2 linked regions of the Homo sapiens genome follow. The protein of the gene in region 2 interacts with the protein of the main gene of each other region in a pairwise test. Each region holds a gene or a part of one and is shown on either strand. Other genes may lie near its edges.

What was found.
Region 1: the proteins of TSPAN18 (region 2) and OLFM4 interact in a two-hybrid assay, tested with the Homo sapiens proteins (one large-scale study listed by BioGRID).

Annotation. Positions count from the first base shown.
Region 1 is NC_000013.11:53,031,809-53,035,625, reverse strand, and holds part of OLFM4 (olfactomedin-4 precursor), read right to left. Parts: intron 1,279-3,817; coding exon 1,126-1,278; intron 1-1,125. UniProt on the Homo sapiens protein: May promote proliferation of pancreatic cancer cells by favoring the transition from the S to G2/M phase. In myeloid leukemic cell lines, inhibits cell growth and induces cell differentiation and apoptosis.
Region 2 is NC_000011.10:44,729,820-44,733,636, reverse strand, and holds part of TSPAN18 (tetraspanin-18), read right to left. Parts: intron 1-3,817. UniProt on the Homo sapiens protein: Plays a role in the cell surface localization of ORAI1 and may participate in the regulation of Ca(2+) signaling and the VWF release in response to inflammatory stimuli.

The sequences.
Region 1 (3,817 bases), on a different chromosome or scaffold from region 2:
GAAAGAGATGGAGGGTGAGGATGGAAGTGGGGATAGTTAAAGGGTAAAAAATAAAAGTAGTTAGAAAGAATAAATAAGACCTAGTATTCAACAGCACAACAGGGTGACTATAGTCCATAATAATTTCATTGTACATTTTAAAATAAGTAAAAGAGTCTAATTGGATGGTTTGTAACACAAAAGATAAATGCTTGAGGGGATGGACACTCCATTTTCCATGATGTGATTATTACGCATTGCATGCCTGTCTCAGGGTATCTCATGTACCCCATTAATACATACACCTACTATACACCAAAAAAAAATAAGATTAAAAATAAAGAGACTACAACCTTGGATTTCACTTGGAGAAAATAGAAAAAAATAAAAGAGACTACAACTTATTGTCACAAAAAAAGAGAGTGAGGGGGAGAGAGAAGGAAGTGAGCAATTTGTAAAGATAAAAAAGGGTTAAAGGAAAGAGAGAGGGAGGGAGGAGGATGAGAGGGAGAGGATTTGAAGGAGTGGAAGTGGAGGAAGGGAAAAGAAGGAGGGAAAAAAAGATCATCTAAAAGTAAGAAAATACCCAAAAATGTCCCCCCCAAAAAAGAATTAACCAGGAAAGGAAAAGAGAGATTAGAAGGGATGAATAAGGGCAAGGATTGAGGCAAGAGAAATAAGAAACTAAAGGATGCAGGAATGGAATAGAAATAGAAGAAAAGGAAAAAGAGAAGGGAGATAGAATAGAACTAAAGGGGATAGAGGAGAAGAAAGAAAAGAAAGCAAAGCTTGAGGAAAGACCTAGAAGACCAAAAGGAAGAAGCAGCGTCAAAACAAAATAAAAATTGCAGGTTGGGGTTTGCAAGGAGAGCTCAAGGCTTCTTTCCAACTGCCTAAGTACCACAATACTATAGTGAGTTTATCCACGGCGTGAACAATTTGAACCCCACTTTCTTCCTGTGCTCTCATTTTCCCTGCCTTAATAAGAACTCCATTGGTGTCCTATAAAATAAATACTAAAATCACCATAGAATAAAAACGTGATGTCTTTGATAGTGAAGAATGATTGCTTATAAAATCCTAAATTAAAACACATTTTGTTTTGTTTCTCTTTATCAAGATATTGTTTGAAAAGAAAATGCTTACTTTGGAAAGTTCTTTCTCAAACTTCTGAGAAAGAACATGAGCTGTGAATTCCAAGCGTTCCACTCTGTCCACGGGAAAGGTGGTGTCTGGCAGGGAAACAGAGCACTGGCAGGTCCCACGGTCATCCACGGAGCCGGTGAAATTGGAAAACAACTGCAAATAATAACAAGTTGAACATCAATAACAAGCTGGAATCTGAGCTTTTGGCAACTGGAGTGACAGAAATTGGCTTGTCGAGAGTACTTACAGGCAAGTAAGTGGAGTCCAATACATAAATGAATAGAATCATAGAAACAAGCTAAAACAGCTTTGTTTTCACAGGTGGGGACCACCCAGCGTTTAGCCACATCGCCACTGGTTGTACGAAAACCACTACGCCAGCAGACTTTACCTAAAGGAAGATTCCCCATTCTCGAGGCTTTTTTTTTTTTTTTTTTTTTTTTTGAGACGGAGTCTCACTCTGTCGCCCAGGCTGGAGTGCAGTGGCGCGATCTCGGCTCACTGCAAGCTCCGGCTCCCGGGTTTACTCTATGCTCCTGCCTCAGCCTCCCAAGTAGCTGGGACTACAGCCCGCCACCACGCCTGGCTAATTTTTTGTATTTTCAGTAGAGACGGAGTTTCACCGTGTTAGCCAGGGTGGTCTCGATCTCCTGACCTCGTGATCCACCCACCTCGGCCTCCCAAAGTGCTGGGATTACAGGCGTGAGCCACCGCGCCCGGCCATTCTGGAGTCTTAAAGGAGATTATTCCTATCTCTATGCAAGGAAAGGGAAATAAAGAAGCTATGAGAGTGCTAAGTTTGAATTTCAATTCTAGCACTTGCTAGATGTGAAATCTCCTTAATTCTTAGTTCCTTCATCTGTAAAATAGAGATAACCTACTTCACAGGGTTGTCCTCAGTATTAACGAAGTAATGTGAGCCAAGTCCCTGGCACAGAGTAGGTGATCTGAAAATGTCACATTCTCTTTCCTTCTACTGCTCATTTTCTCTTCCTCACCTTCACCCCAACCCAATCCAATTCCTTTTCATCAGAATGAGGGAATCACCAAAGATGTGGGCTACAGTGAAAATATATGATGCAAATTCATATCCTCTCATCGCCTGGGAAATTGCAAATTAACATCCTTCAAAATGGGAACCAGCCATTTGTTAGAAAGTGAATAGCGTATGAGCTTGAAGGTTTTGTGCAATTTTTTTTAATAAAAGTTTTTTTCCAGCTTACCATTTGCAGAAAAAGTCATTTTAAAATATTTTATGTTCATTTAAGATATTCAGACTCACACTTCAGTGCCACCGCATATTTTTAAATGACACTTTTGAAAGATCCTGTTTTTCTTTTGTCCCCTTTGAACTTCCCCAAGAGGATCCCAGCACAATTAACATTTTTTTATTACTACTATTGCCTTACAGAGTAACCCTTGGCAGCCAATTTGCTGTGCCTTTTAATGATCTCATCTGAAAGCCAACCCAAAGCTCACCTGTGGAACATCAGCCTGAAGGGACTTTTTATGAAACCTCTAAGGAGACAGCAATGGTCTTCAGAGCCAGAAGTGACTCTGGCCATGTCTCTCAAAGTTCAGGTCAGCCAGCTGCAGGTGGTGTAATGGGTCCTGTGCATTTAATGGCCACCAACCTCCATAATGCCTGATCAAGCTGGGTCTAGATGCTTCTATAATGAAGACTTATTTTATCACTGGCCTCGGGGCCAATCAAGGCTTTTGCATCTAAGTTGTTTTTAATTTAATTTAAGTTTCAAGATGAGCAGAAAAAAAAAATATGTGTGTGTATCCAATCATATTTTTTATGTGTTTAGTCAAAATTTATTACCTTGGTCTCAATTTTCTTTTCCAATCACATCCCTACGTGGGAAACAGTTCAGGAGTAGGGAGGAGAAACAAGCAGATTTATGTCGAACATAGGGGTGGACAGCAGGGTTTGAATAGGGGAAGGGTCTTTGCCAGAGATGAATAAAGACTCGGTAAGATACACCAGGAACCTATCAGAGAGGCCAGCTTCCCTTGAAACCAGCTTTACTCATTTCTCCAAAGATAGAAAGACTCCAACTCAAGCATGCCAAGGCTTTTACAGAAAAGACCGACATATCAAGGACTTTTGAAGAAATAGCTTATTATAATAACAGTCTAGCAAAAAAAAAATCTTGCATTGCATTTTAACAAGGGGAGTTTAATTAGCTGCACAAACAGGGTTGGGCCATTCTCAGAGTTCTCTGAAAAATTCTGCCAACTCAGAAAACAGTGGATATCATCAAGCAATCTCTAGACAGTCAATTAGGAACCACTAGCTAACAACTTTTAGTCCTGAAGTTCACTTGAAAGACAGACAAGTAATTATGAGCCCTGCTGTCAGCCATTCCATCGGTTTCTATTGAACATCTCTGTCCCAAAGCTGTGGACTCCCCCAGCTTCCATCCTGCTTATCATCAGCCCAGCATGCTCAGCTGACATCAAAATGGTCCATAAGTTTGATCAGTGTCTCCCATTAGAGATATTTCTGCTCCTCGCATTCAAAGACAATGAAGCTAATGGTGATGAGTCTCTCTCTGCGGTGAATGCCCAAACTCTACATGAATGAAGCATGGGGGATGGGAGACAAAGACAAGAGCTTGTCCCCTTGGCCTTTGGAAGAATATGCGATTCCCCTTCTGTAGGGCAAATAGGACCCTGAGTACCT
Region 2 (3,817 bases):
TCCTGCAACCTCCCCTCCTCACCATCCATAAAATGAATACAGATACTCTACCCTATTGAGGAATGCAGGGAGGAGACAGGAGCAGAAGTGGGTTCTGAAAGATCCTGGGAGACATGCTGGAAAAAGTTCTCAGAGCAGTAAATTTCAGTAAGCCAAAGGAAGTCATGGGAGAACTGGGCTGAAGATCCAGGGCCTGGCTTATAGTGCCCTTGCCATGCGTGGACTCACCTCCCTCTGGTATGTTATAGGCACAATATGATCTGCCCAGAAATAATCTCAATAGACACAGTCTGTAATCTACAAAGAGCAATGTACATCGGGGATTATTAGGGAAAGGAAGCTTCTATGTGTTAACAACCAGCAACATACCAGCTCTATACTAGAAGCTTTAAATGCATCATCTCAATTGATCCTTAAAGCACTCTACTAGGGTAAATGTAAATGCAGAGACTTAGTGCTCATCAAATATCCATGTACTTCCTTACATTCTCAGCCTCCCTGGGGGCTGGTTTGGGGCCAGATGACAGTTCTGACCAAGGTGCTGGAGGTGAAGTGATGTGTGTCACCTCCTGGCCAAAGCAGTTGAGTATTAGTGTGGCTTTCCCTTCTCCCTCTTCCCCATCTGCAGTAACTTTGGATGCCACATGCTTTAGAAGGGGCAGTTACAAAGATGGTGGAGTCATCATCTTTGGAGCCTGGGTCCCTGAGTGACCGTGTGGAACAGAGACCCATATTAGACAAGTAATGTGATCAGGAGTTAATCATTTTGTTAAGCCACTGAGATTTTAGAGTCATCTGTGGTTGCTGTTATTCTGATTTTCACAGATAAGGAAGCCAAGGCCACACAGCCAGTAAATTGCAGAATCGGGATTCAAATTTCAGATCTGTGACTCCAATATGCATCCTCTTTCCATTACAACCTTTTGTTGCTTAATAAGATCATTCCCCGCTCTAACCCCTCCATAAGCAGCCATGTCCCAAAAAACTCTTACTCATCACTGTCCCCAAAATGCCTGAGTAATCCATGCAGGACAGAAACGGAATCTCATAAGGTGCCCTGAGCCTGCGAGATTATCAAAGGTGGGGAGGAGGGGGCTTGATTCAGTCTAAGAGATATCATTCCTGGGGCTTTTCGGCTCACAGGAGGTTTTGATACATGAGGAAATATAACACAGTGGTTTAGCACACAGGATAAGAGAATCAGATCAACCGAGGATCAAATCTCAATCCCACCACTTACTCTGAATTCTTCCTGAGCCTTCACTCTCTAATCTACAGAATGGGGGCAGTATCCAAACCATCCTTGTAGGCGGAGACAGGATGAAGTATTGTCAAGCACCTGGCGGGCGGCAGCATTCCCCAAGTGTCTGCCCCATGATAATCATCTCTGGGATATCTCAGAGCAGCAGCCTTGCTGGAACAAGATGAGGCAGAGGCCCAGCCTGGCCTGGCCCCTCCCAAGCCGCTGGAAGAGGCTGCCCCGGCCAGCATGGCCAATAAGGTCCAAAGCTTTAGACCACGGACCGGGCCCAGCCCACGTCCTTGGAGCAGACCATGGGCAGAACACAAAAAGGGATTCAGGGCCAGCCAGACATAAAGCAACACAACAGAAGAACCAGATTATTTATCTTAAAGTCGAAAGTGTCTTCTAGGAAGATGGCTTTTTATTTGGGTGACTCTGGGAGAGGCTGATCAGCTTAAACACATTATCTGCACATATGGTTTTCATACCATGGTGAAGGGTGGGAAACAAAGGGTGGAAGGGAAAGGACAGGCAAATGCTAGCTGATGAAATATCATCCCTCAACTGCCAGGAGCCAGGATATTGTCAGTGACGTCAAATTGGGCTTCTTGCCATGGGGACGGGGCTACCATGAGCCTAGTCACAACATTCAGGAGTCCCTCAATGAGGCAGAGAAAGGAAGAAAAGAACCAAAAAAGCAACTTATTCACCCTTACCTTCTACCCCAAAGACAGATTTTCTCTCTCTCTCTCTCTCTCTCACACACACACACACACACACACACACACACACACACAATCCAGGCCCCAGAAAACTAGAAAGGACCAAAGTTAATCCCTCCCATTTTACAATAATAGTAATAATGATAATCATGACAATGATGATGATAGTGAACACTTATTGAGCACTTACTATATGCCAGGCATTATGCTAAATGTTTTACTAGTTTTATCTCAAAGACTATCCACAACAATCTGATGGGGTATTACTAGTTCCATTTTACAAATCAGGAAATGGAGGCACCAGGGGTTGAATGGTCTAAGGTCACACAATTGATATGAAGTTATGATAAAGCTAACAGGCAAATCCAGGCAGTTTAACCACCACGCACTGCTGCCTCTAAAGAAATAGAGAAACCGAGGCTCAGAGAGAGGCTGTGACTCACACAAGGCCACATCGCTCCATCTGTAACAGTATCAGGGCTGGAACACCAGTCTCCTAATGCCTAGTTCAGCTACCTTTCTGCTCCATCCTGTTGCCTTTTGTACACACTTGCCCACCACCAGTGAACATGTTTTTGCTCATCTCCAAGTTGTTGAATTCACTAATTAAGCCAGCAGTCTTGGGTGCAGACCAGGGGCAAGAGCTGAATCTTAAGACAACAAGTACCCAGATGAAAGACCAGCCCTGCCAGCTGCAAACACAGGCTCACCATCTTACTCTCCCATTCTTTATAAAAAGTGTTTCAAAAGCCAAGTGCAGTGGCTCACGCCTGTAATCTCAGCACTTTGGGAGGCCGAGGCAGGTGAATCACGAGGTCAGGAGTTTGCGACCAGCCTGACCAACATGGTGAAACCCGTCTCTACTAAAAATTCAAAAAAAATTAGCCAGGTGTGGTGGCACACACCTGTAATCCCAGCTACTTGGGAGGCTGAGGCAGGAGAATCGCTTGAACTCGGGAGGCAGAGGTTGCAGTGAGCCAAGATCGCACCACTGCACTCCAGCCTGGGCGACAGAGCAAGACTGTCTCTCAAAAAAAAAAAAAAAAAGTGTTTCATGATCCACCCCCACTCCCTCAGATGGAGCACTAATGCAGGTCCAAGGTGCCAGCCCGGGTGGCAGGAGGAGCCCAAGCTGGTACATTTGCTCAATGGCATCAGGTGGTAGAAACGCCTGATCAATGGGCGTCATCTGCTCAGTGGGACCAGAGTGCTGGTTTCCAAGGCCCCCTCCCTGTGCTGCACCCCAGCTGAGCATGAACAAATGTTCCTGATTTTCCCTCTCAATGGCTGATGAAATAGACCAGAAAAGCAGCCCTCTGGAAAGGGAGAGGTCCCTAAAACCTGCACCCCAGGAACTGAAAGGGCTCTTCCCAAGAAGAGTGGGGAGCGAGCCTGCAGACTAACATGGGGCTCCCAGCAGGGACTGGTTACAGACATTCCCCTCTCTACCCAAAACTGCTGGGCACTTTGTCCTTCAGCTCTGATGGCAGGAGCTGGTTTCTGAAGCTGCTGCATTCACTCAACGCAGGATTTTGCTGTGTACAGGCGGGCAGAGAGAGGCAAGCCAGCCCGGAGAGGCACCTTCCACTGAATGGAAGGCAGAAGGAATGGAGCAGGGCTGCCCAGCCCCCTAAAAGGTTAGACTCTCCTGCTCTAAGTTGCAAGATAGCTCAGAATCTCCTCAGCCAACATATTCATTTTACAGACGGAGGAAGCAGGCTCAAGAGGGGAAATAACCTGCCCAAGGCCACACGGATGACTCAGAAGAGCTAGATTTCAAATCTGCTATTTTCCCTCTTCCTGGCACCCCCTCCCACACATCCTTGAATTAATCCTGTGTCCCTACCCAGCA